Linked DNA regions of Homo sapiens: region 1 is linked to region 2. The links come from fine-mapping of genetic effects on gene expression. A gene starts in region 2. The other region holds a variant in brackets. All regions are shown on one strand. Distances are between the middles of the regions. Region 1 has its middle 140 kb from the start of CD164. Region 2 holds the start of CD164 (CD164 molecule).

Region 1 (15,148 bases), 140 kb before region 2:
GCAAAGTTTTTATAAGAGTTAATAGATATAAGATGAAAGATTGGGAGCCAGTGGTTCCATAGCTTAAATGACTCATGAGTAACAACTAAGAAAATCAGATTGTTTTTCTTAAAATATAAAAATATACTATATATATATTTAAAAACAGAAAATAGGCCGGACGCTGTGGCTCGCACCTGTAATCCCAGCACTTTGGGAGGCCGAGGTGGGCAGATCGCCTGAGGTCAGGAGTTCGAGACCAGCCTGGCCAACATGGTGAAACCTTGTCTCTACAAAAAATACAAAAATTAGCTGGGCATGGTGGCATGTGCCTGTGGTCCCAGCTACTCTGGAGGCTGAGGCAGGAGAATCGCTTGAACCAGGGAGTTAGAGGTTGCAGTGAGCCGAGATCGTGCCACTGCACTCCAGCCTGGTGACAGAGCAAGACTCCGTCTCAAAAAAAAAAAAAAAAAACCCCAGAAAATAACAAATGTTGGTGAGGATGTGGAAAAACTGGAACCCTTGTGCACTGTTGGTAGAAATGTTAAATGGTGTAACTACTATGAAAAACAGTATGCAGATTCCTCAAACATTTAAAATAGAATTACTATATTATCCAGAAATTTTACTTCTGGGTATATGCTCAAAAGAATTGAAAGCAGGGGTTCAAAAAGATATTTGTACACCTATGTTTATAGCAGCATTATCCATAATAGCCAAAAGGTGGAAGCAACTCAAGTGTCTATCAACAGATGAAACAAAATGTGATAGTTCCATAGTCATTACGGGATATAATTCAGCCTGAAACCGGAAGGAAATTCTGACACATGCTGTAACATGTATGAATCTCGATGGGATTATGCTAAGTAAAATAGGCCAGTCACAAAAGGACATTACATGAGACACCTAGAGTAGTCAAATTCATAGAGACAGAAAGTAGAACGGTGGTTGCCAGGGGATCAGAGGATGGAAAAATGGGGAATTCTCGTTGGGTGGGTACAGATTTTCAGTTTTGCAAGATGAAAATAATTCTGGAGATGGGTGGTGATAGTTGCACAACAACATGAATGTACTTAATGTCACTAAATTGTACATGAAAAAATAAGATGGTAAATTTTATGTTATGTGTATTTTACAATAATAAGAATAGATAGATAGATCTATAGATAGGAAAGAGAGAGAGAGGAGAGAGAGAGAGAGAGAGAGAGATGATAGATATCTAGGCCAGTGTTTTTTAACCTCCTTTCCATTATGGCTTCCCCAACAAATAACCTTTTTCAACTTTTTTTTTTCCCCTACTCTCCCCCTACAAAGAAATATTAACACCAGAGATATGCCATAGATTTGCTTATGTGCAATGTGTGTATCTGTGCTTCATATATAAAAAGAATAAGATTTTTTTTGTCCTCCAAGAACCACTTTCCACCTGGGCATTATCCCCCCATATAGAATGTATGTATTAGGCTGTGGTGACATGAGATCAGAATCTATGAAGGCAAAACACAGGATTTTTGATGGGCATATGTTAAAAGCACAGGCATATGTTAAAAGCATATGTTAAAAGTAGAGATTACAAATCATAGACTCAAAGAAACCTATATGCGCAAATATAAAAACCATTCATACATTCTTTTATTTAACAGATATTTTCTAAGCACCTACTATGTGTTAGGCCCTGTGCTAGGCAATGAGAATAAAATGATGAACAAAAATAGACATGTTCCTTACCCTTACAGTACTTTGTAATCCAGTGGGTGAGATAAATATTGGTCAAAAATCACACAAATGAATGTAAAACAGGGACATCAAGTTCCTCAAAAGAGAGACTGAGAGCTCCTTGGTACTATAGGGAGGCTGGGGCAGGAGGGTTTTAAGGAAGTGACGATTGAGCTGAGGTTGGAAAATGAAAAGTCTTTAATTAGGTAAAAAGGAGAGGGAGACCTTTCCACAGAGTGGGGACAGCCTGTGCAAAGGACCTGTGGCCAGAGGGATCATGGCACCTATAAGAAACCAAAAGACAGGAGTGGTTGGGGCACAGACACGAGGTGGAAGGTGATGCACAATGGAACTTAGCTCTGAGTTTCTCAGCCTTGGCACGATTGATTTTTGGGGCCTGATAATTCTTTGCTGTGAGAAGCTCTCCTGTCCATTACAGGATATTTAACAGCATCCCTGGCCTCTACCCAGATGCCAGCAGTACCTCCCACTAAGTCATGACAACCAGAAGTATCTCCAGACATGGCCAAATGTCCTCTGGAGGGCAAAATCACTCTCAGCTGAAAAACACTGGACTAGAGGGATAGGCATGGGCCAGATTGTATGGCCCTGTTAAGGAGTTTTGCTTTATTCTGTGGCCCATGGGAAGCCTCTTAGGGATAGAAAAGGGGGAAGGGGGAATGACACAATCAGAATTGCATTTGTAAAAGTTCCCCAGCCAGCAGTGAGTAAAATGGAGAGGAGGGAAAGCCCAGGCCAGAGGAGTCATGGATAGACCATTTAAGAGGCTAGGCCAGTTTAGAAGCTCCTAGACTAGTCCTCATGAAATATAATAGCTTGGACTAGGGTAGTGGGTAGTGGAGATGGGAAGAAGTGAAACGGGAGAGTTCCCTGATTTCCCCTCGTAGAATGTGTGACAGGGATGTGGCTCGCCTGTTTCATGGCCCTGCCGCTCAAACCCCAAGGAGGAGCATGCAGACAGGCAGGTGCAGAGGCCAGGGCAAGTGCTTTGTGCTCTCAGCGCCACTTAGTGTCTAGCGGTGGGTGCCTGCAACCCGTGTTACAAAGCCCTTTCAGCTTTGCTGTCTGCAGATGGCTTGAGTGCTAATCAGCTCAATGGACCCTCTGCCTTATCACAAGGGCAGACGGCCAGTGCGACAGCCTTCTGTATCCCGAGCTCTTGCCCAGTGTCCCGGAAGAATCGGATCACACGCAGGCTTGAAGGATGAATGCAAGGTTTTATTGAGTGGTGGAGGTGGCTCTCAGTGAGATGGATGGGAAGCTAGAGGTGGAGGGGTGGGGGAGATAATCTTCTGAAGTTCAGCTGTTTTCGGCAGAACTCCTCTGGACGTTCAGAGGCCTCTTCCCTCCTTCTCTGTTGTGCTGCTCTGCTTTCTGCCTCTCTCTGCTGCTCTGTTCCTCTGTTCCTCTCAACATTCAGCTTCTTGCGTGTGTGCCCGCTAAGGTCTCAGGTTTATATGGGCACAGGATGGTGGGCCAGAGTGGTCTTGGAAAATGCAACATTCGGGCACAAAAGCAGGAGTACCTGTTCTCCCTTAGGTCTGAGGGCATAGGCCCAAGGGTGGAACCCTCACCCTTCTCTACTCAGCACTTCCCTGACCCACCTCCTATATCAGAAGTGGATGTATTTGAGAGACAGGAAGTAAAACTAACAGAACTTGGTGATAGATTGGACAAGTAGGGCGAGGCAGAAAGAGATGTCGTGAATGATTCATGCTAGAGGAAGTGGATGGGTGGTGGTGCTATTTAGTAAAATCGGCTGGAGATAGCCTGGGTTTGCGGGGGAAGATTTAATGATTTGATCATTGTTAAAATTGAGGGGGCTTTGAGATGCCCAGGAGCAGTTGCCAAATAGGTAATTGGATGTGCGGGTCCGGAGCTCTAGGGGGTCTGGATTGGAGGCATAAACTGGGGAGCAAATGGTCTAAAGGTGGTAATCTCAGCTATGAAAATGTCTGCCACCTCCTAGGGAAGGAACAGAGGAGGAAAAGAGGAGGTCCTAGGAGGCGGCTTGAGAGTGGCCATCATTTAAGGACTTGGTAGAGAAAAATAAATACACTTCACAGTGTCAGACAGAATGACCGGAAACTAGGCAAAATCAGGGAGAACGTGGAGTCCCAGATGCCCGGAGAAGAGAGTGAGTCAAGAATCAGGAAGCACTAAATTATATCAGATGCTCCTGAGAGATTACGTAAGATGATGAAAGAAAGTTTGTTGCATGTAGAGCAGTGGTCATTGTTGGTCTTAGTGAGGGTGGTTTGGGTGGCTCGATGGAGCCAAGGGCCAGATGGGAATGGGTTGAAGAGTGGGAGGTGAAGAAATAGAAATGGAGATTGTAGATAACATCTTGGGAGATTGGACAGTGAGGGGGAGGAGAGCCACACAGTGGAACCTGGGGAAGGGTGTGAGGAAGTTTCACAATGAGAGGGACGTGTGCACATTTCAGTGTCAAGAGTCCAGCGGAGAGGAGTGGGATATCCATGAAGGAGCAGGGATGCTGCTGAGGTGGGAGGCAGCGGCCCTAGAGAAGGGGGGCAACACTGTCCTCCACTGTGCGGAGGAAGGAGGAGGGGAGAGATGTGAGCCCTGGGGAGGCGGCGGAGAGTGGCGCGCAGAGGAGCTCCTCCTGGGAGTAAGAGGAGACTACGCCTGGGAGGGAGGGATTCCGAGGCTTGAGGAGAGTGGAGGTTGGAAATTGTGAAAATTATTATTAAAATAACGATTCTCAGGAAGCAGCAGATACTCAGTTTTCTAAGAAAAATAACATTATGATTGAAATACTTCTTACTTGTATTCGATTCCTAGGATTATCAAAACAAAGTACCACAAACTGTGTCTCACAATGACAGAAATTTATTCTCTCACAGTCTGGAGCCACAAATCCAAAATCCAGGTGTCAGCAGGACCGTGCTTTCTCTGAAGGTTCTAGAGGTGATAGTTCCTTGCCTCTTTCAGCTCCTGGTAGTTGCTGGCAACCCTTGGCAATCCTTGGCATTCCTTGACTCACCCTAGTCTCTACCTCTGTCTTCACATGACCTTCTCCCTTACGTGTCTGTCTCCAAATTTCGTAAGGATCACAGTCATTGAATTAGGCCCACTCTCATCCAGTATGACTTCATCTTAACTTGATTACATCTGCAAAGACCTATTTTCAAATAAGTTCTCATTCACAGGTTCCAGGTAGACATGAATTTTGGGGGACACTATTCAACTTAGTACATTAGTAAGCCATGAAACTGTGCTAACACATTTTAGAAGTACTTATAGAATTACAAGAAAAATAGTTTTAACCTAACATTTAAGGATTCCAAGTGCCTTACACTCATAGAGTCACATACTCCTGGCAGCTAACATAGTCTATAGTGTCTCCACAGTCCCCATGTTACAGATGAGGAAACGGAGGCTGGGAATAGCTGAATGACCTGCCCAGGATGAGATCCTGGCAGAGCCAGAGCCTGAACCCAGGCATTCTGACTCCAGAGACCACTCTAGGCTCTATTTCCTACCTTTCTCCAGTTGCTACTGAATTTGTCAGAAAAACAAACTAATCAGCTAGTTATCCACCTCAGGAACTACCTCTTCCTGCCAATATTCTTTGTTAATATGTTTTCTGCATACAGCTTTTTATACATTCAGAATATTTACAGCTTCATACTGGCAGCCCACTGTGTGGGAGCAGAAGCCTGCTGCTTGTCCATGTGGGATGGCAAAATATAGCTCTCCTTTTTCCAGTAACATCTGGGCTTGGCTTTCTTTCTCCAGGTCCACAGCGTCCAATTCATGGAGTTCTCGGAAGTGGAGAACCAGGATGACTACTACAGCACAGAAGCTGGCTGCATCCACACCCAGGACCAGCAAGGGGTGCATGTCATGTATGAGGAAGCCTTGAGTGATCTCAAGGAACTAGAGGCAGAGTTGCTGCTTGTGGCTAGCCATTACATTGAGAAAGAAAGGGGTGAGAAGTCAGATTTAAAAAAAAAAAAAAATCAACTGCCTAAATAAACAAAAAACACTAAGGGCTCCTTTTTAATACTCTCCACCCCAAAATATAAACACATATCCAATAGTATGTGAAAACTCAATAAGCGCACACTTCCCCCACCCCTAAAATGCATTCACTTTAGGAGAGACACAGTTCTGTTTCCAGCTCAAGCCCTGCTTCTGATAGAGATGGTGACTACTCTTTCAGGGCCGGGTTGTAATTCTTGCTGTGATTCAGACTCTGTTTGTTGACCAGGGACATTTCTTTTCTTTCTTTTTTTTTTTTGTTGTTGCAGCAGGAAGTTTCCTTTATAAATGGAGAGTTGGATGATACACAGTTCTAGCGTAAGGCCTCAGTCACTGGGCCCCAGGAGACAGAAAGGAGCAGGGCTGAGAGGGACGACATGCTCCAGGGCTCATGTCACACTGATATGTGCGCCAGGAATGACCGCCCATGTACTCCTAAAGTTCAACCCACCCACCAGTTCAGTCAAGAATTATGCTTTTAATTCTTCATGTTTGGCCACTGAAGATCAAATCCACCATGATAACAGGATTTCAGTACAACAGGCTCTTTCCAGTTACGACAGACAAAGATGTCCAGGCTCTTGATAAGAAACAAAAGTTCCTTTGACTTCTCTTGCGAGGACCGAAGAGATAAATGTTTTCTTTGTGATCTGTTGAAATGTTTATATAGACTTGAAAAAACAACTAACAGTCATTCTGTGCTCTGGTTCCCTGGAAGGTTTCTCATGATCTCCCCTTCAATAGCTAGAGGGCTTGTGTGTCAGGGAACAAAGAATTAAGACACTTTAAGCGATAAAAATCCTAGTGCAACACTCAGAGGCAGATCGTGGGCTTGAGGGGGCCGGAGGGGTGCGAGGCAGGTGCTTTGACTGAGGAGCAGGTGCTGCCTTCTGGGAAAGCCTAGTGGAGACAGAAGCAGGAGCAGGAAGCCCTGCCAGGGAAGGCCCAGTTTCTTCCTTGCTCTCCTGAGGTACAAGGGACAGCACGGCCCCTGCATTTTCATTTCTCAGGGCCAAAGACCTGACCTCTGACCCTCTACCCACTCTGGTGACCTGCACGCTAAATTGGGTGGTTTCTGACTAAAACAGGCTTAAGCCAAGAATTGGGATTTTACTCCCAGGGGCATTTCTGCGTCACCCACTGGGTGCAGGGGATGTGGTGCAGGACCCTGAAGGAAGGAAAGTAAGCAAGTGAAACAAATGACTTTTCTAAGTGGTAGACCTTGAGGAAACTGCATTTAGCAGCAGAGACAGCCCTGAGTTCCTAACAGGAAACCACTAGGATGCAAGAACATCTGGCTAGGAAAATGCCAGACAAGCCCCAGAGGAAGAAATCATTACTCAGGGTAATCAAGTAACCCATAACCTGTATTTTCTCTTCCTTTTGGCATCACTCAAATCGATCCAATTTTAGAAATGAATGAGGTAAGAATATTCTTTTGGGATACTATGACAGCATTGGAATTACACTTGCAAAGAGCTTAGAATTTCTAGACACATTGCAATACCTAAAGGGAAACTTAATCAGGGTTTGTGCTATTTTGTAATATGTGTAGACTGTAATTAAAGATAATTCACATTCATATTGTTATAAAATGCTGCTCAAAGAAAGTTTGACAACTAACTTTTCAGATCCTAGACAGAATTAATTTGATATAGGATTGAACTCTTTGTCCTGTCTTTGCCATTGGTATCTGAATCATAGGACGCAATGATGGCATCCAACATTCCAGGGTATTTAATTTCAGCCCTTAGCTTTTATCTTTACTGGTTATCCTACAAACCAATGCACCATTTGGTCCATATTAATTTA[T/C]AATAGCATGCAACTATTTCTAGCTGCTAAGAATTTAACTGGACTGAGACACTTAGTCAGTAGTCATTTAACCACATGGGCATTTTTCAATTGAGCTGGTAAATGTATAGTCATCTATTGTGAAATGATTTCCCAACTGTTGCTACGGAAGTTCTTGATCATCTTTCTCTTGCTTAGTACCCATTAGATATGTGATAATTATTGAGCTTAAATTTCAGCACATGAAAGTATCTTATCTTTGAATATTTAATTCTGAAATACAATAGTTAAAAATTTAAAGCAATAATAATACCAGTAGTGAAAAGTAACGTGAACAAAGTTAAAAAAAATCAGCTGAATAATGAAAATTAACTTCATTGATTTAAGTTAGTAATTAACATAATTAAGGAATATCTTGGAAACGTTTCTGAAAATTTTCGACTTGGTTCACAATGATGGAAATAGCAAGTCAAACTAAGTTTGTTGTTAAACCCCCAGGGGTTTGTTTTTAGAGAAGGAGAAATGTATACTTTGCCTTTAAATTGTGGGTTTAAGGACATTTTAGCATAGATTTCTTGTTAACTAAATTTTGACTCTATTTCTAAGATTAGTCTTTGAAACTGAATTTTAAAAATAAAAACAAAAGCTCCTGTCGACTTAGAAGTCAACAAGTATGAAGTCAGGCTTTGTCCCAGGGACTGGTTCAGTATTTCTGTTTCTGAGATGGAGCTGATAATCCAAGGGGCACATTTCTAATTGGAACAGGTTCCTTGGAAGCCCTGTCTCTAAACATTCTCACCCTCTTTTCTCCCAGGTCACAAAGTGGGCAGCCAGCCAAAGAGTGGCCAGGAGTGGGGATGGGCCCATGCAGATGTGGACAGATTTGCTGTGCTGTATGACACGTGGACTTGGGAAGCAGCTCTTCTGGAAAACAAGCGCCAGGTATTCTTGCCTAGGAGACAAAATGTCTGCTAAAAAAACATTCTTACAAAATCCAGTCTTTTTTCTGTTTTTTGTTTGTTTTTGTAAAACCCAGTTAGACTTTTAGAAAAGCTCTCAACCAAGAGAATAATTATTTTATTTAAATAATCTCAGCTAATTATAAGGATGTAATACATTTTATTTTCTTTACTGAGGTTCATCACAAAAAACAAAATGTGAAAGATACTTCTTTATCTTACAGGTATTATTTGTTAGAGGGCTACGTAATTCCTTCTTATAATATGTATGTTTTTAGTGAGAATGAATGATGATTTCATTCATGCTCATTGTGCAGTCACAGGGACAATGCTCACTTTGCTAATTACAGACAAATTGACCTGATCATGGCCTTTAGAAGCGTATGCCACATGTGGGTAGGTGAAAGCAATTGGACAGGGTGCTGAGTGCAATGTTATGAGGGTGAGTTTAAAGCAATGAAACAGCAAGTTACTAAATCATCACTGTATCACGAATGGTTCATATCCCAATAATGAATGAAACACTGCAGGTTTACTGTTCTTCATTTGTGCCCTTAGCATGGATTATGAGCCCTTCTAATAATCACCAATTGTTAGGCATTTACTTACCAAATATGAAGTATTTACTCCGCCAGGGACTGTTCCAGGCATTCAGGGACCTATAGATAACTAAGTGAAAATGATCTTTATCTTTAAGGAATTTATCATCTATAAAAGTTGATTCAATCTCCAAGCAAAAATTATAATCTAGTTACTAACAGCTTATAATTGAATACATTCATGAGTCATGGGGACTCTGCAGAGAGAGAGATTTGTCCTGGGGGAGGGGAGCACTGTCCGATGGAAGAAATGCTAGAAAGCCTTTCCAGAGGAATAGATATTTAATCTTGATACTAAAACATGAGTAAGATATTGTCTGGCAGGGAAGAAAAGATTCTTAAGCAGACGAAATGGCATTAGAATGTCAGGGCAATGTAAATGGGAAGGACCAGCTTGGGGGATTTTATTTTGAGAAATAAAATCTTACCTTCTTGGAGGATGGTAGGAAGACTGTTATGGCTGGGATGTAAAGGCATGATGGATGGCAACAAGCCACACATGTGTTTTGGGTGCAGCCTGTAAAAGACCTACTAGTTATATTATTTTAGAGTTTGTCTTACAAACAAAGAAGAGCCATTAGTGAGTTTCCATAGAGAGAAATATGATCATAGCTGTGTTTTTAACAGCTATCTTGGGTGTAAGTGAGAGAATGGATTGGAATAGAGAGCCCCTGAGAAAAGAAGTGCAGTTGTTGCAACAGTGACCTGAAAAATTAGGAGGGGACATGCAATGACAATAGAAGAATAGAAAGGCAGAGAGGCGGTGAGAATAGGAAGGAGGAACAGACCTGAGAATACTTTGCAGAAGTGGAAATGGCAGGATTTGAAGACTGGATCTGGAAGTTGGGGCGAGAGAGTAAGGGTGGAATTTAAACAACTTCCTGAGGATTAGGGAGGAGGCTATTAACTGAAACTGAACCCAGGAAGAGGAAGAGTGTCTTTAGACAGGAAAATAACGTAGGCCCTAGGACAACAAGGCATTTGAGGGGGTTTGCTGAAACTCAGATGTGAATGTTTTGTGGGGAGCTACAGGTTTGAAGCTCAGGAACAGGTATGAGCTGAGGTATGAATGCAGAGGTTGAACCACAATGATGAATCAAAACAACTGGGAGAAGCTAGAGGTGTCTGAAATGAAGCCCTAAGTAATGTACCTACTTTTTTTTTTCTTTTTGAGATAGTATCTTGCTCTGTCACCTAGACTGGAGTGCAGTGGCACGATCTCAGCTCACTGCAACCTTTGCCTCCCAGGTTCAGGCGATTCTCATGCCTCAGCCTCCTGAGTAGCTGGGATTACAGGTGCCCGCCACCATGCCTGGCTAATGTTTTGTATTTTTAGTAGAGACAGGGTTTCACCATTTTGGCCAGGCTGGTCTCAAACTCCTGACCTCAAGTGATCCACCTGCCCTGGCCTCCCAAAATGCTGGGATTACAGGCATGAGCCACCACACCCGAACCCTGAGTAATATACCTACATTTAAGGGGCAGGTCATGAAACAAGAAGCAGTGAAACTAAATAGACCAGAGAAACAAGGAAGAAATAGTATTGTGGGAACCAACAGAAAAATAAGTTTTAATTAGGAGGGGGTGGTTACTTGTGGAGTTCTGTGAAACGTCAAGAAAGGAACTCCTAAAAACCAAGCAGCTTGGTCAGGTGGTCATTGGCAGCATTGCAGGACTCTTTCAGGGGCATGGTAGGGGTGGAAACCAGGTTATAGTGCACTATGATGTGGTCAGAAGATGGGGAAATGGCAGTGTTTTCTTTGAATTGTTTTTCTAGTAGAATAGATGCTTCACCATTTCATCTACTCTCTGGTTGGTCTGTTACTCCTAGAGATGTAGGTCACCCACCCTTTGGAAAACAATTGGCTGGGCTTAAATAGCGCAAGCCTTGGACTTTGAAAAAATGTTCCTCTTTTCAATGATAACTGGCTTCTACAGCCTTTGTCTGGAGGCTTAATCTGCCCATCAGAACCTTAACCAACTGAGTGAGAGATTTAGATGCACAGTGTAGTAATGGAATGGCTGTATGAAATATAAATAAGACAGGATCCTTAAACTCAACAAGTTTATCAGTCCAGGCGTGAATTTTTTTTTTTTTTTTTTTTTTTGAGACGGAGTCTCACGCTGTCGCCCAAGCTGGAGTTCAGTGGCACAATCTGGGCTCACTGCAAGCTCCGCCTCCCGGGCTCACGCCATTCTCCTGCCTTAGCCTCCCAAGTAGCTGGGACTACAGGCGCCTGCCACCATGCCCGGCTAATTTTTTTTTTATTTTTTTCTTTTCCTCAGTATAATTTTCTTTTTTTTTTATTATTATACTTTAAGTTTTAGGGTACATGTGCATATTGTGCAGGTTAGTTACATATGTATACATGTGCCATGCTGGTGCGCTGCACCCACTAACTCGTCATCTAGCATTAGGTATATCTCCCAATGCTATCCCTCCCCCCTCCCCCCACCCCACCACAGTCCCCAGAGTGTGATATTCCCCTTCCTGTGTCCATGTGATCTCATTGTTCAATTCCCACCTATGAGTGAGAATATGCGGTGTTTGGTTTTTTGTTCTTGTGATAGTTTTCTGAGAATGATGATTTCCAATTTCATCCATGCCCCTACAAAGGACATGAACTCATCATTTTTTATGCCTGCATAGTATTCCATGTTGTATATGTGCCACATTTTCTTAATCCAGTCTATCATTGTTGGACATTTGGCTTGGTTCCAAGTCTTTGCTATTGGGAATAATGCCGCAATAAACATACGTGTGCATGCGTCTTTATAGCAGCATGATTTATAGTCCTTTGGGTATATACCCAGTAATGGGATGGCTGGGTCAAATGGTATTTCTAGTTCTAGATCCCTGAGGAATTGCCACACCGACTTCCACAATGGTTGAACTAGTTTACCGTCCCACCAACAGTGTAAAAGTGTTCCTATTTCTCCACATCCTCTCCAGCACCTGTTGTTTCCTGACTTTTTAATGATTGCCATTCTAACTGGTGTGAGATGGTATCTCATTGTGGTTTTGATTTGCATTTCTCTGATGGCCAGTGATGATGAGCATTTTTTCATGTGTTTTTTGGCTGCATAAATGTCATCTTTTGAGAAGTGTCTGCTCATGTCCTTCGCCCACTTTTTGATGGGGTTGTTTGTTTTTTTCTTGTAAATTTGTTTGAGTTCATTGTAGATTCTGGATATTAGCCCTTTGTCAGATGAGTAGGTTGCGAAAATTTTCTCCCATTTTGTAGGTTGCCTGTTCACTCTGATGGTAGTTTCTTTTGCTGTGCAGAAGCTCTTTAGTTTCATTAGATCCCATTTGTCAATTTTGTCTTTTGTTGCCATTGCTTTTGGTGTTTTGGACATGAAGTCCTTGCCCATGCCTATGTCCTGAATGGTAATACCTAGGTTTTCTTCTAGGGTTTTTATGGTTTTAGGTCTAACGTTTAAGTCTTTAATCCATCTTGAATTGATTTTTGTATAAGGTGTAAGGAAGGGATCCAGTTTCAGCTTTCTACATATGGCTAGCCAGTTTTCCCAGCACCATTTATTAAATAGGGAATCCTTTCCCCATTGCTTGTTTTTCTCAGGTTTGTCAAAGATCAGATAGTTGTAGATATGTGGCGTTATTTCTGAGGGCTCTGTTCTGTTCCATTGATCTATATCTCTGTTTTGGTACCAGTACCATGCTGTTTTGGTTACTGTAGCCTTGTAGTATAGTTTGAAGTCAGGTAGTGTGATGCCTCCAGCTTTGTTCTTTTGGCTTAGGATTGCCTTGGCGATGCGGGCTCTTTTTTCGTTCCATATGAACTTTAAAGTAGTTTTTTCCAATTCTGTGAAGAAAGTCATTGGTAGCTTGATGGGGATGGCATTGAATCTGTAAATTACCTTGGGCAGTATGGCCATTTTCACGATATTGATTCTTCCTACCCATGAGCATGGAATGTTCTTCCATTTGTTTGTATCCTCTTTTATTTCCTTGAGCAGTGGTTTGTAGTTCTCCTTGAAGAGGTCCTTCACATCCCTTGTAAGTTGGATTCCTAGGTATTCTATTCTCTTTGAAGCAATTGTGAATGGGAGTTCACTCATGATTTGGGTCTCTGTTTGTCTGTTATTGGTGTATAAGAATGCTTGTGATTTTTGTACATTGATTTTGTATCCTGAGACTTTGCTGAAGTTGCTTATCAGCTTAAGGAGATTTTGGGCTGAGACAATGGGGTTTTCTAGATATACAATCATGTCGTCTGCAAACAGGGACAATTTGACTTCCTCTTTTCCTAATTGAATACCCTTTATTTCCTTCTCCTGCCTAATTGCCCTGGCCAGAACTTCCAACACTATGTTGAATAGGAGTGGTGAGAGAGGGCATCCCTGTCTTGTGCCAGTTTTCAAAGGGAATGCTTCCAGTTTTTGCCCATTCAGTATGATGTTGGCTGTGGGTTTGTCATAGATAGCTCTTATTATTTTGAAATATGTCCCATCAATACCTAATTTATTGAGAGTTTTTAGCATGAAGGGTTGTTGAATTTTGTCAAAGGCTTTTTCTGCATCTATTGAGATAATCATGTGGTTTTTGTCTTTGGCTCTGTTTATATGCTGGATTACATTTATTGATTTGCGTATATTGAACCAGCCTTGCATCCCAGGGATGAAGCCCACTTGATCATGGTGGATAAGGTTTTTGATGTGCTGCTGGATTCGTTTTGCCAGTATTTTATTGAGGATTTTTGCATCAATGTTCATCAAGGATATTGGTCTAAAATTCTCTTTTTTGGTTGTGTCTCTGCCCGGCTTTGGTATCAGAATGATGCTGGCCTCATAAAATGAGTTAGGGAGGATTCCCTCTTTTTCTATTGATTGGAATAGTTTCAGAAGGAATGGTACCAGTTCCTCCTTGTACCTCTGATAGAATTCGGCTGTGAATCCATCTGGTCCTGGACTCTTTTTGGTTGGTAAACTATTGATTATTGCCACAATTTCAGCTCCTGTTATTGGTCTGTTCAGAGATTCAACTTCTTCCTGGTTTAGTCTTGGGAGAGTGTATGTGTCGAGGAATTTATCCATTTCTTCTAGATTTTCTAGTTTATTTGCGTAGAGGTGTTTGTAGTATTCTCTGATGGTAGTTTGTATTTCTGTGGGATCGGTGGTGATATCCCCTTTATCATTTTTTATGGTGTCTATTTGATTCTTCTCTCTTTTTTTCTTTATTAGTTTTGCTAGCGGTCTATCAATTTTGTTGATCCTTTCAAAAAACCAGCTCCTGGATTCATTAATTTTTTGAAGGGTTTTTTTGTGTCTCTATTTCCTTCAGTTCTGCTCTGATTTTAGTTATTTCTTGCCTTCTGCTAGCTTTTGAATGTGTTTGCTCTTGCTTTTCTAGTTCTTTTAGTTGTGATGTTAGGGTGTCAATTTTGGATCTTTCCTGCTTTCTCTTGTGGGCATTTAGTGCTATAAATTTCCCTCTACACACTGCTTTGAATGCGTCCCAGAGATTCTGGTATGTTGTGTCTTTGTTCTCGTTGGTTTCAAAGAACATCTTTATTTCTGCCTTCATTTTGTTATGTATCCAGTAGTCATTCAGGAGCAGGTTGTTCAGTTTCCATGTAGTTGAGTGGTTTTGAGTGAGATTCTTAATCCTGAGTTCTAGTTTGATTGCACTGTGGTCTGAGAGATAGTTTGTTATAATCTCTGTTCTTTTACATTTGCTGAAGAGAGCTTTACTTCCAAGTATGTGGTCAATTTTGGAATAGGTGTGGTGTGGTGCTGAAAAAAATGTATATTCTGTTGATTTGGGGTGGAGAGTTCTGTAGATGTCTATTAGGTCCGCTTGGTGCAGAGCTGAGTTCAATTCCTGGGTATCCTTGTTGACTTTCTGTCTCGTTGATCTGTCTAATGTTGACAGTGGGGTATTAAAGTCTCCCATTATTAATGTGTGGGAGTCTAAGTCTCTTCGTAGGTCACTTAGGACTTGCTTTATGAATCTGGGTGCTCCTGTATTGGGTGCATATATATTTAGGATAGTTAGCTCTTCTTGTTGAATTGATCCCTTTACCATTATGTAATGGCCTTCTTTGTCTCTTT
Region 2 (15,148 bases):
TCAAAATAAGTTTTGTATCATTTGCAGACTTCCATGGCATGACTATTTCCATGGTAACCAGTTTCAAGTTACCAACATGGTATCACTGAACATGGGCTGGGAAGAGCTACTACACAATAACTGGCTAGCAAAAGCTGGTCCAAGCCAGCTCCACACACCACTGCGTAAGTGTTTCAAGATGAGTTGTCCTTGTTACAGCATTTGACTACTTCTTCCTTTGAAAAACTACGCCCACAACCACATACTGTTAGTTTCTTGCACATACTTCTCTGGGCTTTTTTACTACCCTACCCCCATCCCTATTTCCTCCCGTCTTCTTCCTAGCCCTTAGACATTACTGTTTCCTAGAGTCTGGTCTTCAAGCCCCATCCCTTCTTTCTATATGCTCCTCCAGTGCCTCTACTACTGCCTATGCCTATTTATATTTTTAGCCAAGAGCTCTTGCCTGACTTGCAGTTTCCTGAATACTGAACAGATCCCACTTAAATGGATTCTAGGTATCTTAAACTAAAATCCCAAATGACAGGCCCAACCATCAATAGACTGCTCTTCCTCTTTCTTGCTTACTTTGGTGAAAATTCCTCCCCTTCTCCCTATCACTCTACCTCTCCTCCTCTCAGTCATGAAGTCCTACCCCTTCTACTTCCTAAACTTATTTGCAAACATCTGCAGCCCACCTCTATCTGTTCTCTAGAATTATTGTAACAGGCTATCTAATCTCCTGAGTTCCTTCTGGCATCGTTCCAATCTACTCTCCACAATGCCAGAATAAGTTGTTTTATTAAAATGCAAGTCTGATCATATGACCTATAAACTTTAAAATCTTTCAGGATAACATCTAAGTCTACCAGCAAGGCATACAAAGGTGTTTCCCAATTCTGCTCACCTGGTGAGCAACTGGTGATGGACCAGCTTAACTCCTTCTCACCTTGTACAGGATGGGACACTCTTTGAACTCACCGTACTACTTCACATCTCCTCCGCATGTGCTGACCCGCTGCTCCACTTCAGAGGCTCTCTCCAAGTTTTCCAGTGCAGTTTCACTACCAAGCTATCACCACATCTGCATCCCACCCAATACACATTCCTTCTTACAAATTTCCCAATACGCTGTGCTCACTGAGATCTTTCATTGTTCCTACAGTAGACAAAATGCTGGCTTAACCCTACCATTTACCCTAGTACTTGTCTTGGAATAGACGCATTTAATATTGGTAAAATGTTAAGTATTTAATATTTACTCTTCCTCTCAAGTTAGTAAATTTTAAGGAGTTCTTATCCATGCTGTTGAGGGCACGGTAAAAACTTTCCAGGTTGATGGGAATGAAAATAATAAATCTTTCTGGAGAGCCTTAAAATAATCATACCCTCTGACCTAGAAATTCTGTTTGACTCAAACCTATCAGAGATAAATACAAATGCAATTCCATGTAAGATGTTCACTGCATGGAGAATGAGAGACGGCCTAATTCTCTAATCAAGAGCAGGATGGGTAAAGTGTATACCATAATGCTTACATTAAGAGAGAAAATACAGGCTGGGCTCGGTGGCTCACACCTGTAATCCCGGCTCTTTGGGAGTCTGAGGTAGGCGGATCACTTTAAGTCAGGATTTCAAGACCAGCCTGGCCAATGTGGTGAAACCGTGACTCTACTAAAAAAACAAAAATTAGTTGGGCATGATGGCAGGTGCCTGTAATCCCAGCGACTCAGGAGGCTGAGGCAGGAGAATCGCTTGAACTTGGGAGGGGAAGGTTGCAGTGAACCGAGATCGTACCACTGCACTCCAGCCTGAGCGGCAGAGCAAGACTTCGCTTCCAAAAAAAAAAAAAGAAAAGAAAAAAAGAAATACAAAGGTGCATGAACGTTATCGTACAATTTCATAAAAAGTGTATTTATTTAGATACACATAAAAAAGACTAGAAGAAATTAATCACTGAAAACATTTTGGTTGCTCTGGATGATGAGAATTATAATTTGCTTTAGGCTTCTATATTTCCCAAGATTTCCACTAAATCTATAAAAAGTACTTTATAGACTCAATGTACACAGCCTCAGCAAATCTGCTCACATTCACCGACTATAAAACACTGGAGCTATGTGTCACTGTCACAAAAGGTAGAGATTAACGTTAATTGCTGTGGTCCAAGACTTTTAAGTTTTTACTCATCTTTAAAATTATACTAACAACTTTTACATAATTATTTAAAACTAATCCATCAAGAAAGCTTAAAAATACTGAAGGAAAAGGAAGAAAACAGTCATCTTGAATTACCTGTAGAATTGGCTGTTGGCACTGGAGTGGCCGTGGAAACTATTAAAAAAAGAAAAAAGAAAAACCATATACATCAAAGCTATTTAAAATATCACAATCTATAACGCTAGTTCCTGACCTGCAATCATTTGAGTACTTTTCACAATTTTTACAACACTTAAATACTACCTGTGGAAGAGACTGACAGTTGCCCCCAAATACCAGTCTCTTCTTTAGAAATAGAATCACCAATTTTTATCAACACCTCCCTTCCTCCTGAAAAGACATTTCCTAGTCTCCAGTGCTTCCAGGCCATCACGCATAACCTCTAGGAAGCATCCTTAAAGTAAGATACAAGCCTCTTTCATTCCCTTCTTCATCCTGCTGGCAGGAAAATAATCAATGTGATGGCTGGAACATAAGGACCCACCTTGGACAGTAGGGTCAAAGCCATTTTTGAGAGGTGAAAGAGTAAAAACCTAAAGAAGCCTCAGTCCCTAATGGTTGCAGAGCTGAACTCTAGTCCAGACTTCCTTTACATGAGAGAAAAGTAAATCAGTCCACTGCTTAAGCCATTGTAATTTGGGGGTTTATGTCCTTCATAGCTGAAACTAATTCTAACTGGTACATCATCAAATATGCAGCAGTACAAATACAGTTTTCCTTTAAATCAGTTTTCAAAAACGTTCTAATACTAATGAAATCTTCATTAATCTTGTCTCTAAGCAATATTACAAAACCACAGGTCTGACAGTTATTAGTTTATCTAACACATATTAAAGTAATTACTTAAAATGTTTCAGCCAGGTCCAGTAGCTCAAGCATGTAATTCCAGCACTCTGGGAAGCCAAAGTGGGAAGACTGCTTAAGCCCAGGAGTTCAAGACCAGCCTGGGCAACATAGTGAGACACCATCTCTACAAAAAAATTTTTAAATTAGCCAGCTATGGTGGCATGCACCTGTAATCCCAGCTTCTGGGGAGGCTGAGGCAGAAGGATTGCTTAAGCCCAGGAATATGAGGTGGCAATGAGTTATGATTGTGCCACTGCACTCCAGCCTGGGCAACAAAGAGACTGTCTCAAAAAAAGTTTGTTCGTGTACCACCTAACTATATTATGCACCCTGTGTGAAGTAAAACTGATCTAATACTAATGAAATGTTCAGTTACAAAATTCACATTGGGATGGGGCAACCCCTACCAAAATTAAAGAGTCAAAGGTAGTCTTTCAAGGTTAGACACACTGCACAAAAATCTTTTTCCTATTCAATTATTATCTATGCATCAAATTAGGAATATGCCTTTCCCACTGATTTACAATCTCATTGGAAAAATCAGCAGCTTCAAGTAGAATTTTAACGTTTTGCTGGACGAATAGTAAAGGTTAAAAATTAATCAAGTTACTCAGATTAAAATACAGAAAATGGATGGGTATAGAAAAGCTCATTTAACCACAGCACCAACTATGCTGCAGAATAAATTTATCAATCAACAATCCCCAGTATCGCAACACCAAAAGTGCCAGAATGAGGTTTCCCAGACCTGCAAGATGCAAACATAGCGGCTAAACTGTGATGAATTCCTAGAAAAGTTTAAAAAAAAAAAAAAAAGTGTGGGGGCAGACAACGCATCCACACTTACAGCATCCACACTATAGCTAAATCACTAAACCAAGCTTCAAATATCATCCTTTAATCAATCAATATGAATATACTATTCATATTCCAATTCTAACAAGATGAGAATTATGGCAATGCTTCAAACAAAGCACTGAAACAAGGCTTTCTGAGGCAATGATCTTCCTCACCTCTCTGCGGTCAGCTTCCAAGCAGCCAATATGAATACTTACCGGAACAGAAGTCTGTCGTGTTCCCCACTTGACAATCACTAACTGTTGAGTTATGTGAACAATAGCTCTCATCTGTTGGGGGGCAGGGGAAAAGAGACAAACAGCATCAACCACCCATTTGTATTATCTTTGACTCTGCTACTAAGCTCTATGAAATCAAACCCAAACACTTTAGAAGTGGGCAGGGGGAACCACTTTAGGTGTTTTGACCTAAAGTTAAACCCACAGACCAAACCCTGTCATTCTCCTTTTCCCACTGACTTAGAGATTACGCAGGATCCTTCTAACTTTTATCCATTAAAAATCCACATTAATATACTGAAAAAATAAATCTGCAACACTTAGATCTCAGAATTGTGGGAAGACTACTGTACAATCAAGAAAGGCAGCCATCATCTAAAAAGTGGGCAGGTGGCTCACGCCTATAATCTCAGCACTTTGGGAGGCCAGGGTGGGAAGATCACCTGAGGTCAGGAGTTCGAGATCAGCCTGACCAATATGGTGAGACCCTGCCTCTACCAAAAATACAGAACTCTGTCTCAGGGAAAAAAAAAAAGGCGGAGACAGTAAGTTGAAGTGGTCAGGGTCTGTATTAAGAGGTTAGTAAACAGATGAGGCACCCCATAACACTGTAGAAACTCTATTCCAAATCTCACTGCTTTAGTCTTCTATACTTTCTAAAACAACTTTCCTGGATAGGTAGACTTGGAACAAGAGTAAGGGGAGAACCTTTCCCAACAAATCTTAAAGTAGAGCATTCCATCTCCAAAATTCACCAACTCTTACATACTCCCATATAAAGGGGAAAGAGTACGCCCTTAAATCCCATTTTATGACCTAAAAAAAAGAGACACTTCTATAACAAAAAAGTTAATTTGGCCCAATTTAGTTAATACCTTAAAGAGCTTTTTGAAATTTATGTAGTGATATAATTTCTAGAACTATTAAAATTTTTACCAAATAAAAAAACTTATGGTTTGTTTTTACTTAAAAAAAAAACCGCCAAAACAACTAGATTGTTTTACTGATAAGTGCAACCACTTTACATTAAAAAACAATTAAAATAATGTATGCAGTAATATGGTTCTAATAAGAATCTTATTGAATTTCAATGTACGTCCCTTTAGCGCTCTACCTCTTGTATTAACAAAAGCACAGGAAGTCAACTCTCCCTACCTCTTTCTTCTCTACACCTAAGCATCCAACAGTTTCATAAGGTCTCTTTATATTTCATGTTGCAGGACACAGTTTTCAACACAACCTTCACTCACAGCTAATTCCAGTGTATTAAAGTACTCTCAATCCTTAGAACAGGCTTTAAAAAAAGCCAGGTGAGGAAGCACGCATCTGTAGTCTTGGCTACTAGGGAGGCCAAGGTTGGAGGATTGCTTGAGCCTAGGATTTCAAGACCAACCTGGGTAACACAGGAGACTCCATCTCATAAAAAACAAACGACTGAGCTTTAATTATCAAGTCTTAAGGAATCTAAAGGGAGGATGGGAGACAAAAAGAGATTTTCAGGGGGAGTGCGAGGCAACTGGCACTTTAAAGGAGTACTGGATTTGCAAAATAAATAGTGCACAATATCCTAAATGTCCTACATAACTTTCAAGTGTTCAAGAATTACTGTATTTTAAAATGCTATAACAAAACAGTTTTGCATCCCCAAAGTTTCTTACCTTTACATTCTATCCAAAAGCAGGTAGTATTAACAACGCTAACATTAAAACAGGAAACGCAGCTGTTTCGACCTTCACAGGTTTCTGGGGAGTTGGGGGGAGAGATGCATGAAATCAATGATTTTATTAGTATCTTATTTGAATCTGTATTACTTATCTTTTTGAACAATAAGCATTACATACAGCATCAAAATTACTAATTCAGATAAATGATAAAACTTTATACTGGTTTACTAAGAAATTCCAATCATTACAAAGCTGTAAGTAAACGCATTAGAAAAACAAGCTAGTGGTCACTCTCAGTACAGTGCCTGATGGTATCTGTCTAACCAATCCTTTTTCACAGGACAACTATTGGAAGACACCCACAGCCACTAAGGATTTAGGCATTTCAAAGCATCCTTAATACATAAAAATATCGAGAAAAAGGCTTTGATATAATACCAACACTACACATAGGAAAACCACTACCCCCAAACATCAGATAAAACCCTGAGATTTTTAGTAGTAACAGTAGTAGTTTAACAGGTTGAACCCAAGCACTGATGATGCCCATTCTGCTGCAAACAAAGATAATTTCCCAGGGATTCTCGATTCATAAATGATCCACTCTCGACAGGATCCTCCACAACTGGAGACAACATCTAAAAGCCCATATTCAAGTGCATACAATTCAGGTTAACAAGGTATTTGTCAATAGTTCATCCTAGGCCAAACAATCCAGAAACAAGTACTCATCACCATAATTCAATTTCTGGAGAAGAACGGACTATAAAATTGGGCTCTATTTTCCAGTGAGAAAAAGCAGCAAAATAAAAGAAAAAAAAGAATTGGGCTCCATTCATTTTCCTAGAAACTAGATGCCTCCAAACATTCTCGTTTGCTTTGCTCCTGCCTAAAAAATAGTTCTGCAGAGGCACTGCTTTCAATACTTCATCATTAGTACTTATTAAAGACTGGGACATGTACGGTGGGGTGGGGAAGGGTTCATAAAGTAAAAATAAATTTTCTGAAGTTTGTATAGATAAAACATGCTGTTTAAAAACCTTTGTGCTTGACGGGTGTAGCAAAGTGAAATGTCTGAAATGTTCTTTACAATGAACTAAACTTGCTACCTTTCAGACCACACTACATCCACTTATGATTTCCAGAAAATACATACCTCCTTTGCACGCACTTCAATTACACAAAGACAAATTAATTTGATACTTCCAACCTTCTCTTACACACACACTACAATTCTGAAAGGAAACTGTCAAATTAAGACTGAGACAAACATATTCTGCTCTATCATCTTAAAATAGTGCGGTTAGAATTCCCAGTATTATACTGCAATTTACTTCCCTCGTTTTGAAATGTTACCATTACATCTTCCTTAAACTAAAAACAAAACATTAAGTTTACTATATACTTTATTAAACTTTTATAAAATACTAAAACTAGAGGAGAATTTGTAGAATATGAATGCCGTGATAAAAATCATTACACTTCGGCATTCTTCGGTCAAGAAGCCAATGTTAACTACGTAAACATTACTCCTTAACTAATGTTAACTAGAATAACCAATCATACGAGACTGCAGGTTTTAAACCTCTAGTGTTTCTCCCGCTTATTACCTCAAACTTATCTTCCTTCTCTCTTTTGTGTTGTCACGGTATATGGCAATTTCTGCTTTAAAATGTATGTATGCCTTAACCAGCCCTATGCGACTGCACATAACAAAAGACACGCTCCTGATCGGGTTTTAGAAAACCCACAGACCTGGGCACAAACCCCCGTTCCACGACCTACTAAACATACGCTATCTGAGCACAGGACATAGTTAAGAAAATTTTAAAAACAATTGAAAAAAGAATAAACATACAATGTCAGGAGAGTTTACTCATCTCCGTCTCTGCATCTACCTCCTAGGTTTCACTACCTACCTTCCAGTTTAGCCTTAGGATACGTACGCAAAACACCCGGTACATACATGGGTACTTTTCTTCCTTTTCGCATACTTTGAAGTGTGAAGTTTTCACTAACTACGTGCTCAAACGTCAGCTACATTCTATTCCTATCTGCAAAACCAATGTAATTAAATCTCAAGCGACCTTCTCAGACTCAAGTCTGAGACACGAACGAGCATTACCGTCTTTAAGTTTCTCTTTCCCGGACTTCCGGAGAAGGCTACCTCCGGAGAGAGGCGCCGGGAGGGTGAACAACCAGTGGCAGGGAGAGGCAGCTCGGCCCCACCGCCAACCTCAGAGGCGCGACGCCCGGCCCCATCCTCAACCCCACCGCTGCCCCCGCGGAAGGAAGCCACGTCCCCATTTCCGACCCCAAGTGAGGCTAGGAATTACGATGCACTTTTAAAAGGCACCTCGACTTGCAACACTTCGAGGGGGGCCCCAGCCCCGCAGCCACTGGGAACCGCGCGTCCGCTTCCCCCCAGCGCGCTCCCCACCCGGCCCGGCCACGAGTGGACTCCAGGCTGGCCGCCATGTTGCCGGAGTCGCCGCCGCACCCCGAGCGCGGCCCGCCCGCCCGACCGTGGCCCGAACCCGGGCCCCGCCCGCACGGCGAGGAGGCAGTGCGGCTCGGCTGGGCAGGGGAGGGCGGGAAGCCCACAGGGCCCGCGCCCACCTGGTGCCGGAGTGGTGACCAGCGGGAGGGACGTCACCGGCGCCGAGGTTACGTTGGAGATGGGCGCTAAAGTCGTCACGTTCGGGTGCTGGGTCGTGTTCTTGTCCGCGGACAGCACGCAGAGCACGCCCAGGCAGGTGGCGGCCCAAAGCAGTGAGCGGGAGAGCCGCGACATCGTGTCCTCAGCGCTGGCGTTCGGGAGAAAGCTAAGGCTCGCAACGCTCAGTCAACCCCTCAATCCCCTGCGGCGCCGCCTCCGAGACTACGCTCCCCCGCGGGAGCGCGCAGGGGTCACGTGAGAGGCCCCTGTTTTCGGCGTGCGGGGGCGAAGAGGAGGGAGGTGGGGCTCGGACGATACCAACGGGAATCCTACGGGGGGAAGCAGGGGAGTCGGGAGGAAGCCGAAGGAACCTGGCCCTCAAAGCGACTGTGCCACAGCCAAGAAAACTGGGAGCTTCTGCAAATCGTTCTTCTTGCCCTCAGATTACCAGACACGACGCAGCTGGACTTGTCTCATGCCTGCGATAGGGACGGCCCCCACCCTGACTTGCATGGAACAGTCGACATAATGTGGCCTACTGCTTCCACCTGAGCGCCCCGCCAGGCTGTAATTCCGCGGGCCCACGTGACCTCCGGGGCCGCGCCTTCCGGACGCAACTCCACTGGGGCGGAAGTTGGTTTTGTGCGGCTCTCAAGAACTAAGTTTGTGCTGTGCTGCGGGATCCCCAGGGAGCTTCCTTATATCTTCGGCAGGACCCCTTCTTTTTTTCTTGAAGATTGATTTTGCTAGAAGTTATCCTGTGATGGGACTCCCTAGGGGAATGGAGGCACCACGTGGTTAAGGAGTTTGTGCGTTGCCGCCCACATAGTGTGGGCAGCTGAGGCGCCGCCCGGATCAGAGCCGCAGGGCGTCTACTCTGTCACTTTCCCAACCTGACTTTTCCGGATTGCTATTTCAGACGGCGGTTGCAGCAGCCGACCTGTCTCAACTCCACCACTGTAGTCAGAGAATCAAAAGCGGTCTGAGTTGCGAGGTCATTGGGGAGGCCCCCACCCCCACATTACCAGTGAGGAAACTGAGACTTAAAAAAGTGACCTGACCTGGACACGGGATTGCCTGACATCAGAGCTGGATTCTTAAGTTCCTGTTAGTGTTAAGGCGCTGCTCAGACTTTTAGTAAAGGTGAGCGCCATCTACTGCCAAGTCTCACAAAATATTCGCAAAATTTGATACGGTTATCACATGGTAAAAATTAGACTTTAAAAGTTGTATTTAATGCTGTGTTTTCAGCTGTTGTACACTTATGTAATTTTAATTATGCAAAGTTATCCTAATAATATAGGAATATTAATTGCTTTCGTGAGGTCTGTCTTGATGTGCCACGATGACTTTTTTGATGTGCCAAAAAAGATGACTACATAGTGCTTTTACCTTTTTGCTCAAATAGAAAGATTTTATTTCCCCTTGGGATCTTTTCAGTGTCGTCCTTCTGTACCCTCAGGACTATGAACATTTGTTCCAATGACTACGCTAGTTGGAGTAGTGTTGCTTGGATGTAAACAAAAAGCTGATAGTTTTGACTGATCCAGCCCAGAAGCATGAGAATGCTGTCAGGGAAGTGAGCTCCCACCATAAGCCCTTCAGAGAAGTGTCTGCTCTTCTCTCAGGAGGCCTCTCTCTATATTTAACACTTGACTATCTGGCACCCAGACCAAATGAAAGCGCAAGGCAACTTTAATTTTTTTTTAAGGTTAAGAATGTAAATAGGGGCCGGACGCGGTGGCTCACGCCTGTAATGCCAGCACTTTGGGAGGCCAAGGCGGGTGGATCACCTGAGGTCCGGAGTTTGAGACCAGCTTGGCCAACATGGTGTAAACCCCGTCTCTCCTAAAAATACAAAAATTAGCCGGGCATGGTGGCACGTGCCTGTAATCCCAGCTACTAGCAGGGCTGAGGCAGGAGGATCGCTTGTATCCGGGAGGCGGAGGTTGCAGTGAGCCGAGATCACACCACTGCACTCCAGCTTGGGGAACAGAGCCAGACTCGTCTCAAAAAAAAAAAAAAAAAAAAAAATGTAAATAGAAGCTCTGTTCTCAGAGCTTGGTGTGTTATCTTCTTTCCACCCTAGGATAAACACACTCCTCTGTGCAGACCATTGTTTAACAATTTGTCACCTGGATGTTTAACTCTAGTCCTCAGATATTCCTCAGTCCTGATAAAGGGACATTTCACGCTCTTGTTTTAAGACTAGAAAACCATTGGTTTATTTTATTTTGCATGGCAACTGTAGAGGTAGATCAAGGGAGTTCCAAAGTCATTTTCACCATTTCAGAGAGACAGCTTTTTTTTTTTCAGTTCCTGACAGTAAGCTTCTGTTTATTGTTGTCATAGAGCAGGGTTTCTCAATCTTGGCGCTATCAAGATTTCAGGCTGACTCATTCTTGCTTGTCCTGTGCATTGTTGGATATTCGGCAGTATTCGTAGCCTCTACACACTAGATACCAGAAGCACCCCACCTCTCAGTTGTGACAACCAAAAATATCTCCCGATATTGTTAAATGTCTCCTGGGGGTAAAATCACAATTGAAAGGCACCCTCAGAGCGTTCTTCTGTGTGCAAGGTCAGCCATCACTCAGGTTATTTCCTCTTAGACACATTGCTTGCAATTAGATTGTCGATTGGTTGTTAGAGCGACCTTCTTAACCATTTATTTTCTTGAAAGCAGCAAGACAGAGTGCTTCTGCGCTTGTGAATCTTCTAGCAGTATAAGCTCCCTCTAAGTTTTTTAAACAGCAGATTTTTAAACAATGCTTCAGCCTTGTGTCAGTACCTTTCCCCAAATAAACAGATCAACACTCCAAACAGGACCCTGCCTTCTAGCTATAACTAACATCCAGTGGCCCCTTAATAATCAGAGGTTTGCCTCCACTACTTGATAGCAAGAAGTACAAACCCCCTTGTACTAGCTTATGTTAAAGGGAATCCATTCACTGTAAGAATATGACAGTAAATCTTATAGGCATTCAGGGGTGGGAAATCAAGTGTGTGAGGGCCAAGGGAGACTTGAACTTAAAAGGAGGAATCCCTAGCACGTGGAGCTGGTTTGCTAGGACTTCGTTTCAGGCTTCAACCCTACAGGACATTGCCAGATCTATAGACCCACAGCCAATCATCTCCATTGCCCAGTATTCCAGTTATATAGCTCTTGGAAGAGATAACTTGACTGAGTACCATGCCTTCCCAACCTGTCTGTTACCTACTCTCTGCTCTGACTCCATCCATGCAGTCTACACTAGAGCTCCCTGAACTTCCAGTTCTCCTAACTGGTCATGTTTTCTTTTGCATGTGGATCTTCATCCATGCTATTTCTTCTGCCTAGAACATTCTTATTCCCTTCTGGCATCTGACCAACTCCTACTTGTTTGAGGTCTCTCAGCTAAGCTGTCACTCCCATCTTAAGCTATCCTTAAAATATTCAACTACCCCTTTCTCCCCACTCCCAGACTACAAAAGGTGTTCCTGCTCTGTGCACCCTGGACTTGCCCATAACAAAGCATATACTGCATTATATAGCAGTTGTCTTTCTCACTAGATTAACTCAGAAATAGTGCTCACCAGTTTATTCCCTGCACTTAATTAAAAAAAAATGAATAAATGAACAAACTGGCTTATTTCAGTCAGTTGTCCACCCTTGCCAAAAATTAGCTGCATTAAAAAGCACAGGAGGAGCCCGGCGTAGTGGCAAGCACCTGTAATCACAGCTACTTGGGAGGTTGAGGCAGAAGAATCTATTGAACCCAGGAGGCAGAGGTTGCAGTGAGCCGAGATTGCATCACTGCCCTCCAGCCTGGGCAACAGAGTGAGACTCTGCCTCAAAAAAAAAAAAAATAAATAAATAAAATAAATAAAATAAAAGCGTAGGAGGGCAGCTGCTACAAATAACTCCCTGAACTCTTCAGCTGTGGGTCAGGGTAGATTCATCTAGAGGAGTATGGGTGGGAAACAAGGGCTGGCATCTGTAAGACAGTTTTAACAGCATATATTAAAGCTCATTTAGTAGTATTTGAATCTGTTTTGACAAAGAGAAGGATTGGAATAAATCAAATATTAGCTAAAACTGTATATTCAGAGTCTTAATATTGTGATTAAGATTAAGGGTAAAATTCTGGAGATATTGTCATTAGGAGGCTCTCCACTTTGACTGTGGATGTTTCTTTGAAAAGTGTGCCAGGGCGCCAGAGGGGAGCATTACACTTTAGAGCAGTTGTTCTTAACCCTGGCTGCACATTGGAACTACCTAGTGACATCAGTGGTGGTGGTGTGTGTTGAAAAATATTGATACTAGTGCCTGGGTACTGATTTAATTGGTCTGGAGTAATGTCTGAGCATCAGCAGTTTTAAAAGCTTCCCAGGTGTTTCTAATCTGCAGCTTAGGTGGAAAACCAGTGCTTTACTCTTGCTTTCCAGAGTGTGGTTCTCAAACCATTATCATTTATATCACCTAGAAATGCAGAACCTCAGGCCTCCCCCTCAGATCTCCTGAATCAGAACCTACATTTTAACAAGATTCCCAGAAGATATGTACATGTGTAAAGTATTAAAGTTGGAGAACAGCCGGATGCAGTGGCTCACGCCTGTAATTCCAGCACTTTGGGAGGCTGAGGCGGCAGATCACCTGAGGTCAGGAGTTCGAGACCAGCCTGGCCAACATGGCGAAACCCCATCTCTGCCAAAAATACAAAAATTAGCCAGGTGTGGTGGCGGGTGCCTGTAATCCCAGCTACTTGGGAGGCTGAGGCAGGAGAATTGCTTGAACCCAGGAGGTGGGGGTTGCAGTGAGCCAAGATCGTGCCATTGCACTCCAGCCTGGGCGACAGAGTGAGACTCCATCTCATAAAAAAAAAAAAAAAAAAAAAAAAAAAAAAAAGTTGGAGAACACTGCTTTACACTATGACTTGCACAGAACTATTCTATCCTGAACTGCTGCAATTTTTTTTCTTTTTTGAGAAAAAAATGAATAAATAAACTGGCTTATTTCAGTCAAACTGGCGCAATCTCGGCTCACTGCAACCTCCGCCTCCCCAGGCTCAAGTGATCCTCCCACCTCAGTTTCCTGAATAGCCGGGTGCGCCACCACACCTGGCTAATTTTTTGTATTTTTGCTTGAGACGGAGTTTCACCATGTTGCTCAGGCTGGTCTAGAACTCCTGAGCTCAAGCAATCTTCCCCCCTTGGCCTCCCAAAGTGCTGGGATTACAAGCATGAGCCACCATGCCAGGCCTGCAATTCTTAACAGTGATTCATTTACAAAATTACATCAAGATATACTGTTTTTGCTTCTTTCTTTACAAACATATGTAAGGTTAGCATACAAACAGCACAAACCTCCTGGATGTGCAGGAGTCAGGGAGCCCAGCCCAGGTTCCCTTAAGGCTGGCACCCGAGATGCATGATTTTTATTTGTATTCTGCTTCAAACCCTGGGTCTGCTAGAGCTCTTTGCATTACGTCTCTTGGTCCTTCAGGAAATGAAACCTTTTCCTGACTTGTTCCTTAGGAATAACCTCCAAGTTCAAGCTAAACTACACCTCAGGCGGCTTGCTGATATCTTGGATTAGCTATGGCTTCCCCTTGTCCCTAGGTATTCACTGTGCTTCTCCCGATCCTGTCTTGGAGAGCTGATTTTCAGCCAGAAGACACCTCATGGCCACTCTGGTTATTAAAATATTCTAGTAATTCTGTACTGACTGGCAAAGTGCGTGTCCTGAGCGGCCCAAGTGTCCAAGTCCCTTCCTAAGGATCTGACTACCACGTTGCCACTGTCCAGCACCTGGAGGTCTCACATCTGGCCCTGCTAAGAACCTCAGGACCTTGCAACAGAATTCTGGTCACTGTCTAATTGGTCAACGTATGTGTACCTCCTCTGCTGCCTTGATGAAATCAAGGTTTCTTGTCAGTTTCCTTCATTCTTCCTTTTCTGTTGTAGGTTACACTTTACTGTTATGACTTTTCTCTTCTACATACCTGTGTGCCACAGATCTATGAGAGATCTAATATATCCCATCTGTTCTTAAAGTGTTGTCTCCAGAACAGCAGCAGCAGCAGCATCACCTTGAACTTGTTCAAATTCTCCAGCCCAACCCAGTGCCACTGAATCAGAAACTCTGAGGTCCAGCAATCTGTTTGACAGGCCCAGGCACTCTGATGCATGCTAAAGTAAAAGAACCTGTGATTTATCACCTTACAAAGCCCTCTATCAAATATGCAACTTGTAATTCATGTTGTATACATTACTACTGAGTTAGTCACCAATATTTCGTATGATATACAAAAGTCTTAAGACTTGCCAGATTTAAGTGGTGGTGATTCCACTTTGGGAAGTGTAGGGGATGGTAAGATCAATATAGTTTAAAAAATGAGTCTCCATAAGGGAGAATATTGCTAGGTGTGGTAGAGACCAATTTTAATTTTAAAGATATACCTTTGAACTAGTTCAGTTGATTGAAAGTTAATCTGATGTGAGAACTGCTAATACTCAGTATAAAAAGAGCTTGATATTTCTTGAAATTAGGATGATGATATTCTGTCAGTGGTAGCTTGACTGGTTTCCGTGGGGAGACATTTCTGAAGGGAAACTAATTCTTAAGGAATATCTGCTGTGTGCCAAGCATTATTAGAAGCACTGTGCTGTGCTTCTCATAATTCACCTGCTGTGAATAGATTCACCTGCTGTGTCAATCCTCA

The links. PIP is the estimated chance that this variant, and not a neighbour inherited with it, causes the effect.
Region 1: its variant is fine-mapped to the expression of CD164 in fibroblasts (GTEx, PIP above 0.99).

What each region holds. Positions count from the first base shown.
Region 1 is chr6:109,233,850-109,248,997 of GRCh38, forward strand. It overlaps the pseudogene CCDC162P. Among named protein-coding and RNA genes, the nearest start is that of CD164, 140 kb to the right of the region's middle. RefSeq lists an enhancer at 7,739-8,938. The variant T/C (reference allele first, on the strand shown) is at 7,537.
Region 2 is chr6:109,373,800-109,388,947 of GRCh38, forward strand. It overlaps CD164 (CD164 molecule), which reads right to left and starts at 8,668. Exons shown (of 6, transcript NM_006016.6): 1 at 8,405-8,668; 2 at 5,780-5,863; 3 at 4,101-4,172; 4 at 2,275-2,313. The coding sequence starts at 8,579. RefSeq lists a silencer at 8,126-8,405 and enhancers at 8,561-9,070, 8,626-8,975, 9,056-9,285.